Linked DNA regions of Homo sapiens. The protein of the gene in region 1 purifies or fractionates together with the protein of each later gene. This does not show direct contact. Each region holds a gene or a part of one and is shown in the gene's direction. Other genes may lie near its edges.

What was found.
Region 2: the proteins of UAP1L1 (region 1) and TGFBRAP1 purify together in Homo sapiens (co-immunoprecipitation; one large-scale study listed by IntAct). This does not show direct contact.
Region 3: the proteins of UAP1L1 (region 1) and SDHB fractionate together in Homo sapiens (co-fractionation; one large-scale study listed by BioGRID). This does not show direct contact.

What each region holds. Positions count from the first base shown.
Region 1 is NC_000009.12:137,080,509-137,082,925, forward strand, and holds part of UAP1L1 (UDP-N-acetylhexosamine pyrophosphorylase-like protein 1), read left to right. Parts: intron 1-180; coding exon 181-366; intron 367-1,489; coding exon 1,490-1,556; coding exon of another isoform or gene 1,557-1,664; exon of another isoform or gene 1,665-2,122; intron 2,123-2,128; coding exon 2,129-2,221; 3' UTR 2,222-2,417.
Region 2 is NC_000002.12:105,319,712-105,323,367, reverse strand, and holds part of TGFBRAP1 (transforming growth factor-beta receptor-associated protein 1), read left to right. Parts: intron 1-3,656. UniProt on the Homo sapiens protein: Plays a role in the TGF-beta/activin signaling pathway. It associates with inactive heteromeric TGF-beta and activin receptor complexes, mainly through the type II receptor, and is released upon activation of signaling.
Region 3 is NC_000001.11:17,026,532-17,030,187, reverse strand, and holds part of SDHB (succinate dehydrogenase [ubiquinone] iron-sulfur subunit, mitochondrial isoform 1 precursor), read left to right. Parts: intron 1-1,451; coding exon 1,452-1,588; intron 1,589-2,322; coding exon 2,323-2,439; intron 2,440-3,656. UniProt on the Homo sapiens protein: Iron-sulfur protein (IP) subunit of the succinate dehydrogenase complex (mitochondrial respiratory chain complex II), responsible for transferring electrons from succinate to ubiquinone (coenzyme Q).

The sequences.
Region 1 (2,417 bases):
ATTGGGCCATCCCTGGCGTCTCAGGAGCAAAAACACTCAGTACCTGCGGGGGCTCCTCCCTAGACTTGCTGCCCATGGGACCAGACCTTCACTCTGTCACTGGAAACCTGGCCCAGCTCTCACCTGCCCGGATCAGGGCCTCTGTGCTGGGACGTGGGTGACTAGCCCTTTCCCCACCAGGAACTTTGCTGCCTTGGAAGTGCTGCGGGAGGAGGAATTTTCCCCACTGAAGAACGCAGAGCCAGCCGACAGGGACAGTCCCCGCACCGCTCGCCAGGCCCTGCTCACCCAGCACTACCGGTGGGCTCTGCGGGCCGGGGCCCGCTTCCTGGATGCCCATGGGGCCTGGCTCCCAGAGCTGCCCAGGTGAGTGTGGCCCTGGGGTAGCTACAGCCAGAAGGGGAGGGCTGTCAGGACCCAATCTTCAGCTCCAGAGCCCTGTTGGCTCTGCGACAGCCATGCTGGGGAGGGGTCTTCCTTCCCGGCACCACCGCAGGTGCAGGTAGCCTTGTGCCCAGCCAGCTCCAGGTCACACGGTGACTGTCGGCACAGCCTCCTGGCCCGACCCTTCAAGTTGTGCTCAGTGCACTGAGGGAGGCAGGGGCTCCCCAACTCCCTCCCCAACTTATCCACAAGGTTTTGGTTTGTTTACAAAGGCATACTTAGATTTGGCTTTTATTTATTTATTTTTATTTTTATTTACTTTTTTGAGATGGAGTCTCGCTCTGTCGCCCAGGCTGTAGTGCAGTGGTGGGATCTCGGCTCGCTGCAAGCTCCACCCTCCCCCGGTTTCCGCCATTCTCCTGCCTCAGCCTCCTGAGTAGCTGGGACTACAGGCGCCCGCCACCACGCCCGGCTCATTTTTTTGTATTTTTTTTTTTTTTTAGTAGAGACAGGGTTTCACCGTGTTAGCCAGGATGGTCTCAAACTCCTGACCTGTGATCTGCCCGCCTCGGCCTCGCAAAGTGCTGGGATTACAGGCGTGAGCCACCTCACCCGGCTATTTTTTTATTTTTATTTTTCTTATTTGTATACATTTGTGGGGTGTGTGTGCAACTTTGGTCAGTCAGGTCAGGGCTTTTAGGGGATCCATCACCCAACCAACGTTGTTCCCATTTATTCACAGGCTTTGAAACTGAGCCCCGGGCATGAATTTAGAAAGTAGCAGGACAGTTTGATTTCAGGGCTGGGAAAGAAAAGGACGTTTGGCTTCCATCTCCCTGATTTTCTAGGGCCACCCCTAAATCTAGCTGCCTAGGCTCTGCGTGGGAGGCCTGTGGGGGTGCTTTCTACCCCAAATCAGGTCCTGTCACTTGGCAGTGGGATGTGTGCTCAGGGTTTGGGGTGTCCAGAGGAAGATGAGCTTGCTGAGACAGGAGCTGTGGGGAGCCAGGTGTGTAGAGCTCAGTCTCCTATCGGGACTGGGGGTGCTGGGGGAGGGCTCTGGGCAGGTGCTGCAAGGAGATATTGACAAGTGGACTTTCCCTAGCTTGCCCCCAAATGGAGACCCTCCGGCCATCTGTGAGATATCGCCCTTGGTGTCTTACTCTGGAGAGGTGAGAGCTGCCCATCCCTATCTGGGGCTTTTCTGGTGTCAGGTTTGGAATACCATCTGGGGAGAGGTGGCTGCTCGGGTGGAGACGGCACAGCTCTACCTCGGTTAACCAATGGGGTCGGTGGTTTAAATTTGCAGAAGACTTTCCAAGATATGGGTTGGGGTGGGGTGAGGCATCCAGAGGCCTTTGCAGGTCCTGGGAGGGCATGGGGATGAGACAGCCCAGGTCTGAGCCCAGTGTGGGGCCAGTCAGGCCTTGGTGGGGGCCTTGCGGAGGGAGGACACCGGCCTCTGCTACCTCCCTGACCTCGGCTGCCCTTGCCCCTTTCTCTGGTCAGGTCAGACCTGTGCGTGACAGGAGGGTCCCCTGCTGGCCTAGGGTCTTGAGTGTGGTCTTGGGTGGCCTTGCAGTGTGTGTCTGCTCCTGGCCCTGGAAGCCTTTCTGTCCCCACCCCTCCCTGACTCCAGGCAGACCTGGGATCGCACCTGGGGACTGTGGCTCTTGGTGTGGCCAGAGGGGCTGTGACCCGCCAAAAGGTGGGTACTTGGCCATTGTCCCCTGCTCGTCTCCAGGGTTTAGAAGTGTACCTGCAAGGCCGGGAGTTCCAGTCCCCGCTCATCCTGGATGAAGACCAGGCCAGGGAGCCGCAGCTGCAGGAGTCCTGACCCGCCCAGACTGTCCCCAGACTCCCCCGAGACCTGCCAGCCCCGGCATCCTGGAAGTCCCGACTCCCCCCAGACCTGCCAGCCCCGGCGTCCTGGAGCTGGGGGCTACAGCCCAGCCTGAGCTCTGGGTGGGAAAGCAGCCTGCCCCATGCTTCCAGCCTGCAGAACACAGAATGAAACATGCTGGTAGACTCCA
Region 2 (3,656 bases), on another chromosome or scaffold:
GAGATAGAGGCTGAGCAGCAGGTCCCTTGGCAGCTGCCCACGCTGTTTCTGTTTCAGGAAGCTGACAAAGCCAGAGGTGGGTGTCAGCACATCCCCCCGCCCCCTCTACTGAAGTCACCACCTGACTTTTCCAGGCTCTCCCTCCTCATCCAGGCGTCACAAGAGCCACCATCACTGGGACCACAAGAAAACTGGCCTCCAATGCATGCTTCTGAGTCTTTCTCTCTTAAACTTCTCAGGACCAGCCTCAAAAAACATGGGGAATAAGGCAAGGTGTCCCACTGTGTTGCATACCACCCTTTTCCTTCACCTTCCTCCTCACCACCATGGTTTGCTTTTGGCTGAGTCCTCGGTGATTTAGCTTTCTCTCCTAATTATATGGCACCAGCATCCTGACTGGTTGATTGGGAGCTGTGAACGGCTGAAGTGTGCCAAGCTCTGTCTGCCCCCCATCCGTCTCAAAGGCTGTTAGGATCTATGGCAACTTTTGTCAGTTCACTTATAGGTTTGGTTTTTAGAGCTAATATATGATATACAGTCATGCATCAGTTAATGACTAGGTTATGGTCTGAGAAATCTCCCATGGGGCAATTTTGTCATCATATGAACATCATAGAGTGAATTACACAAACCTGGATGGTACAGTGTATTATACACCTGTATAGCTTCATACCCTAAGCTATATGGGTATGGCCTATTGTTCCTAGGGTGCAAACCTATACAGCATGCTACTGTCCTGAATCTCTAAGCACAAGAGAATCTTGTAACACCAAAGTATGTGTGTATCTGAACACATCTAAACACAGAAAAGGGATAGTAGAAATACTGTATAAAATACTAAAAAAAGGGTCCACCTGTATGGGGCACTTACTGTGAATGGAGCTCGCAGGACTGGAAGTTTCTCTGGGTGAGTCAGTGAGTAAGTGGCAAGTGAAAGTGAAGGCCTAAAACATTACTGTACAGTACCATAGACTTTGTAAATATTGTACACTTAGGCTACACTAAATTTATTCTAAAAATACTTCTCTTCAGTAATAAATGAGCTTACTGTAACTTTTTGACTTTATAAACTTCTTTAAAAGTTTTTCACTCTTTGTAATAACATGTAGCTGAAAACATGTTGTATAGCTGTACAAAAATATTTTCTTTATATGCTTATTCTATAAGTTTTTTCTTTCTTTTTTTTTCTTTAAACTTTTTGGTTAAAAATGAAGACACAAACACACACACATTAGCCTTGGCCTGCACAGGGTCAGGATCATCCTTATCCCTGTCATCCACCTCCACATCTTGTCCCACTGGAAGGTCTTCGGGGGCAGTAACATGTGTGGAGCTGTTGTCTGTGATAACAATTTCTTCTTCTGGAGTCCTCCTGAAGGACTGTTTTACAATTAACTTATTTTTTCCTGCATAAGTAGGTGTACGCTCTAAAATAATGATAAAAAGTGTAGTGGAGTAAATACATAAACCAGTAACATAGTCATTTATTATTATATCAAGTACTACATACTGTATGTAATTGAATGTGCTAGACTTTTCAACGACTGGCACTGCAGTAGGTTAGTGTACGCCAGCAACACCACACATGAGTGATGCATTTTGCTACAATGTTCCAACAGTTAGATTGTCACTAGGTGATAGGAATTGTTCAACTCCATTATAACCTTATGGGACCACTGTTGTAGATGCTGTCTGTTGTTAATGGAAATGTCATTATACAGCACGCCACTGTGTTCAGTTTTCCCCTGTGATGGACATTGCTATCTGTCTATGGCTTCATGGTCTTAGTAGATATGTTTATCCAGGTTAATTGAGAAACTGCTTCTCAGAGAAACATTTTTTTTTCTATAAAAGTTCTATATTAAAATGGCAAAATAGAAACTTGAAAAACATCATTGTAGGCCAGGCATGGTGGCTCACACCTGTAATCCCAGCACTTTGGAAGGCCGAGGTGGGCAGATCACCTGAGGTCAGGAGTTCGAGACCAGCCTGGCCAACACAGTGAAACCCCATCTTTACTAAAAATACAAAAAATTAGCCAGGCATGATGGCGGCTGCCTGTAATCACAGCTACTCAGGAGGCTGAGACAGGAGAAGCACTTGAACCTGGGAGGCAGAGGTTGCAGTGAGCCGAGACCGTGCCACTGCACTGCAGCCTGGGCAACAAAGCAAGAGACTCCATCTCAAAAAAAAAAAAAATAAATAAATAAATAAGTCATTGTATTTATACAAAAACTGTAAATTGTAGGAAGATGCAAAGAAAGAAAGATACTCACGCCTAAAGCCAGGATCCCTGCCATCAGCCAGTCAGAGGAAGTCCAGTGTGTGGGAATCTGTGCCGTCCCCCAGAGCCCATTCTGAGGCTGCCCTTGTCCACCAGACGTTGCTACTTTTCATATGGACTAGCGACAGATGAGAAGGAGGCAGTGTGTTTTCCTTTAGGGATTATTACGTTGTTAAATTCGATCCCACCACTGTAGTTAATGGTAACTATTTTCTGACTCATAGTGTTAATCCTTTGGAAAGGTATCTAGAGAGTAGTGTTTACTGAAATCCCTTTTGACAACTGCTTGGTTTGTGGAGTGCCTTGGACACTTACAGGCTCTTTGGAACTCAGCAGCAATTCCGAACTGATTGTAGCTTATACAATAAGAGACTGATATTATGGAACAATAAGAATAGGTTAATAGCTATAATTTTTCTTACTAAATAAAGGAGGAAAGGTTGGCTGAGGTTAAAATTTTAAGGGCTGTGCTTCTTAAGCTGAGTCTGGAGTTTATCTTTTGGGCAGGGAACTACCTTCTGGTATGTTATAAGGAGGATAATGACCTAGTGTTTCAGGTGTGTGGCCCACATTCCTGCCTCCTTTCTGCATTGCCTTCAGATCTGACCTGGCTTTGGTCCAAATGTTAGAATGACCACTTGATCTCTATTCATTTTTGATGGACTATCATAAAGAAAAAAAAAAAACTTCTTGCTGTAAAATGAGAAAATAACAAATCTTACTTGAGGTAGTGTGTCCTTTTTAAAATGCAGATACAGAATTAATTTTTAGCTTATTCATAGGACAGTGCCTTCTATTATAGGGCTGAGTTTTTGCGGTTCCTCCCCCAGGGTGATGAAGTTCTGGTGCACATATAGCTGCATAGGTTTCTGAAGAGTCTGTTTCATTTATAAGCTGTGAAGTAATTAGAAAATGTGAGGGTTTTTTGCAGACACGTAGGACACCAGGCCAAGCTTAAAGTTGGCTCTCAGGTGGACATTATTTGGTAGAGCAGATAACAAAGTGTCATTCTTTGATTCAAGAATAATTACTGGTAAAGAGCCCATTTTAATAAATGCCAGTTTGTCATAGCATTCTTTTTGGCAGAATATATTTATCTCTGTACCAGATTAGGAGTTTCCTATTGTGTGTGTGTGTGTATGTATGTGTGTATATAACATGTATGTATGTATGTATATAACAAATATATATATTTCAATATATAACAAATATATATTTCACTATATAACAAATATATACACACATACATATATGTATATATGCATTAAACACATATATACCTATATATGTTAAACATATATATTAAAATCTTATATATGTATTATGCTAATATTTATATAGTTAATGTTGGAGTTACAAGCCTCTTTTTTTT
Region 3 (3,656 bases), on another chromosome or scaffold:
AGATGGAATCTTGCTCTGTCACCCAGGCTGGAGTGCAGTGGCGCGATCTCTGCTCACTGCAACCTTCTCCTCCTCAGTTCAAATGATTCTCCCGCCTCACCCTCCTGAGTAGCTGGGATTACAGGCACCCACCACGACTTATATTTTTAGTAGAGACAGGGGGTTACCATGTTGGCCAAACTGGTCTCGAACTCCTGACCTCAAGTGATCTGCCCACCTCAGCCTCCCAAAGTGCTGGGATTCCAGGTGTGAGCCACTTCACCCAACCTACAAAGAATTTTTTTGAATTCGCCGCACATGGCGGCATGTGCCTGTAGTCCCAACTACTCAGGAGGCTGTGGTGGGAGGATCGCTTGAGCCCAGAAGTTTGAGGCTAAAGTGAGCTACAGTGAGCTATGACTCCACCACTGTACTTCAGCCTGGGTGACACAGCAAGACTCAGCCAAGAAAAAAAAAGAAGAAGAGCTATCTCTTAATAATCTGTATCCAGGTCACTTCAACCTTAAGATGACCAAGACAATGTTGATTTACTTTACTTTTGGGTATTGTGTCTGTTAGATTTGTGTTCAAATAACAGTGGCTTTAAAAAATCTAGGTTTCCAGGCGTGAGCCACCACACCCACCCCTACTCAGGAGGCTGAGGCAGGAGAATCACTTGAACTGGGGAGGCGGAGGTTGCAGTGAGCCAAGATCGCGGCATTGCACTCCAGCCTGGGCAACAAGAGCAAAACTCCTTCTCAAAGAAAAAAAAAAAAAATAGGCTTGACGGGTGTGTGGTGGCCCAGACCTGTAATCCCAGTGCTTCGGGAGGCCAAGGCAGGCAGATTACTTGAGCCCAGCAGTTCAAGCCCAGCCTGGGCAACATAACAAAACCCTGTCTCTGCAAGTCTCGTCTCTACAAAAAATACCAGAAAATTAGCTGGGTGTGGTGGGCTACTTCTGTAGTCCCAGCTACTTAGGAGGCTGAGGTGGGAGGATCACTTGAGCTCAGGCATTGAGGACTGCAGTGAGCTGTGATTGCACCACTGCACTCCAGCCTGGGTGACAGAGTGAGACCCTTTCTTTAAAAAAAAAAAAAAAAAAAAAAAAAAAAACAGGCTGATTTTTCTTCAAAACACGTGACACATGGAGCTAGAACTGCTGTGGAAACTCCATGGTGCCAGCAGCGCCCAGGCCTCTGGCCTCCTCCAGTGCCATACTTGGCATGTGGCTTCTAACCTCAAGGTTGCCACATGGTCATAGAGTAGTTTTTGGAACTCAAGCCATTAGAACCACATTCGAGGCAGGAAGAAGGAAGGAAGGGAGAAAAGCCAACAGGCACCTCTGTCAGAGGAATGTTGCATGTCAGTGCTGCCCCTGATGGCACAGCAAGGAGGATCCAGAAGAAAGTATTTGGGGCAGGACTGATTCCGGATATGGGTGAGGATGTGTTAAATGTGTGTCTCTTTCAGGCATCTGTGGCTCTTGTGCAATGAACATCAATGGAGGCAACACTCTAGCTTGCACCCGAAGGATTGACACCAACCTCAATAAGGTCTCAAAAATCTACCCTCTTCCACACATGTATGTGATAAAGGATCTTGTTCCCGTGAGTTTCTGCATCTCTCTGGTTTTGTTTTTATTTGCATGGGGGGCAGTGCTATGTGTGTTACGCTATTAGTTTTTCAGGGCAGGATTTGTTTGAGTATTTAAGGCTCCTCTTCTAGTCAGATAGTAAATAGATGGGACTGTTTCCTATATTATGGCAGGAGGAGGACCACAGTGTCACTGAGAGATTAGGAAAATCTCCAGATCTGAGACAGTGTGGCCAGAGTTTAATTAAAGAATTTGAATGGCAGAAGATAAACGCCTAGAAAATCCTCCAGCAGCTCATTTGGTGAGGTTTGTTTGAGAATAATGGGGCACAGAATTTTAGAATTGGAACATTCCCAGAAATGAATAATTTGGCCATAACTACAAAGAAATCATGTGGAAAATGCCAGTTGGGAAAGCAACAGCTGTTTATGAGTCCCACTTTAATTTCTACCTCCCTATATTTGAACACCTTTGCTGACGTGGTGTTTTCAAGGGCAGAAAGGACTGTGGGATTGGCAGGTTTCCCAAGTAGGTGAGGGAGAGGTTTCCTAACCATGCTTAACATTGTGACCATTTTTCCTTTTGTAATCTTTGCATATATTCATGACAAAGGAAAAGAGTCTGGCTTCTGCCTGGCATAGAGTGGACGAGTAGTCAGTGTCCAAGAAATGGGGTAAATAAAGCTGAGGTGATGATGGAATCTGATCCTTTTCTTCTTCTTCTTCTTCTTCTTCCTCTTAACCACAGGATTTGAGCAACTTCTATGCACAGTACAAATCCATTGAGCCTTATTTGAAGAAGAAGGATGAATCTCAGGAAGGCAAGCAGCAGTATCTGCAGTCCATAGAAGAGCGTGAGAAACTGGTCATTAGTCCCTATTTATTGTTTCAATCTGAAGAATTTATTGCAAAGATGATTGCCAGGAGTGTGGCTTGGCAGGGAACATAAGCTGATGCAAGCCATTTAGTGTATTCTGGAGAGGAACTGGCACAAGGGTGGGGCACTCATCCTCTTAGGGCCGGGTGAGTAGTGTGAACCCGTGAATGGCCCAGAGTGGACCAAGGAGCTAGAGCCCTGTGCCCCGCCTGCAGGGGCGGGTGGTTGCTGTGTGGCTACTCCATCTTTTTCAAAAGAAACCAGTATGTAAATTGCCTGGGCTTTAAAAAGTGACCACTAAGTCAGAACTGTTCCCTCACTGGGGGCAAAATGAAACACATATGCTGGCCAGTTGTAACTACCACCGTCCTGCTTTACAAATGGGAGTGAAATGTTAATGGCAAAACAGAGTCATCGATATTCTTTCCTGACACCATACTTCTGGTGATCTGTGGGGTGGGATTATTCCTGGCCTGCTCACTCTCTGGGAGTTGCCATTCCTGTGTACAAGCTGTAAAATCTTAAAGCGGAGGCATCATTATCAAGTTTTCAGTCTTTCTTCTTCTACACTACTTCTACTCCTCTGCGAAGAAGTCTTCTCTGATTTGCATACTCCCTGCATACTTGTGGACGTGAGGTAGGAAGGGGACCAAATGGAGACAGAGCCCCACCTGCAGGTCTGCACAGGGCCAAGGGCAATGGCTGTGTCTTCTTCCTTTCTGGATCCCTAGGCCCTGGCGCATGTTATTTTATCCATAAATATTAGTTATGTAAATACTGTAAAAATATATATAAATTTTTTAAAAGGCCAGATGCAGTGGTGCATTCTGATAGTCCCAGCTACTCAGGAGGCTGAGGTAGGAGGATCACCTGAGCCCAGGAGTTTGAGAGTCTGAGAGTTTGAGGCCAGCCCGGGCAACATAGCCCAGGTTTTGTCTCTAAAACATATACATATATGTGAATATATGAAAAGTATCAGTTGTATGAATGAATAAATTAATTCTACCTTTTGAGACTTGGTAAATATTTAGCATCCTCTCCTGTTGCCCATAAAACGTTAAGAAAGGGGAGTCCGGCCAGGTGCAGTGGCTCATCTGTAATCCCAGCACTTAGGGAGGCCGAGGTGGGCGGATCACTTGAGGTCAGTTGTTCGAGACCAGCCTGGCCAACGTGATAAAACCCCATCTTTACTGAAAATACAAAAA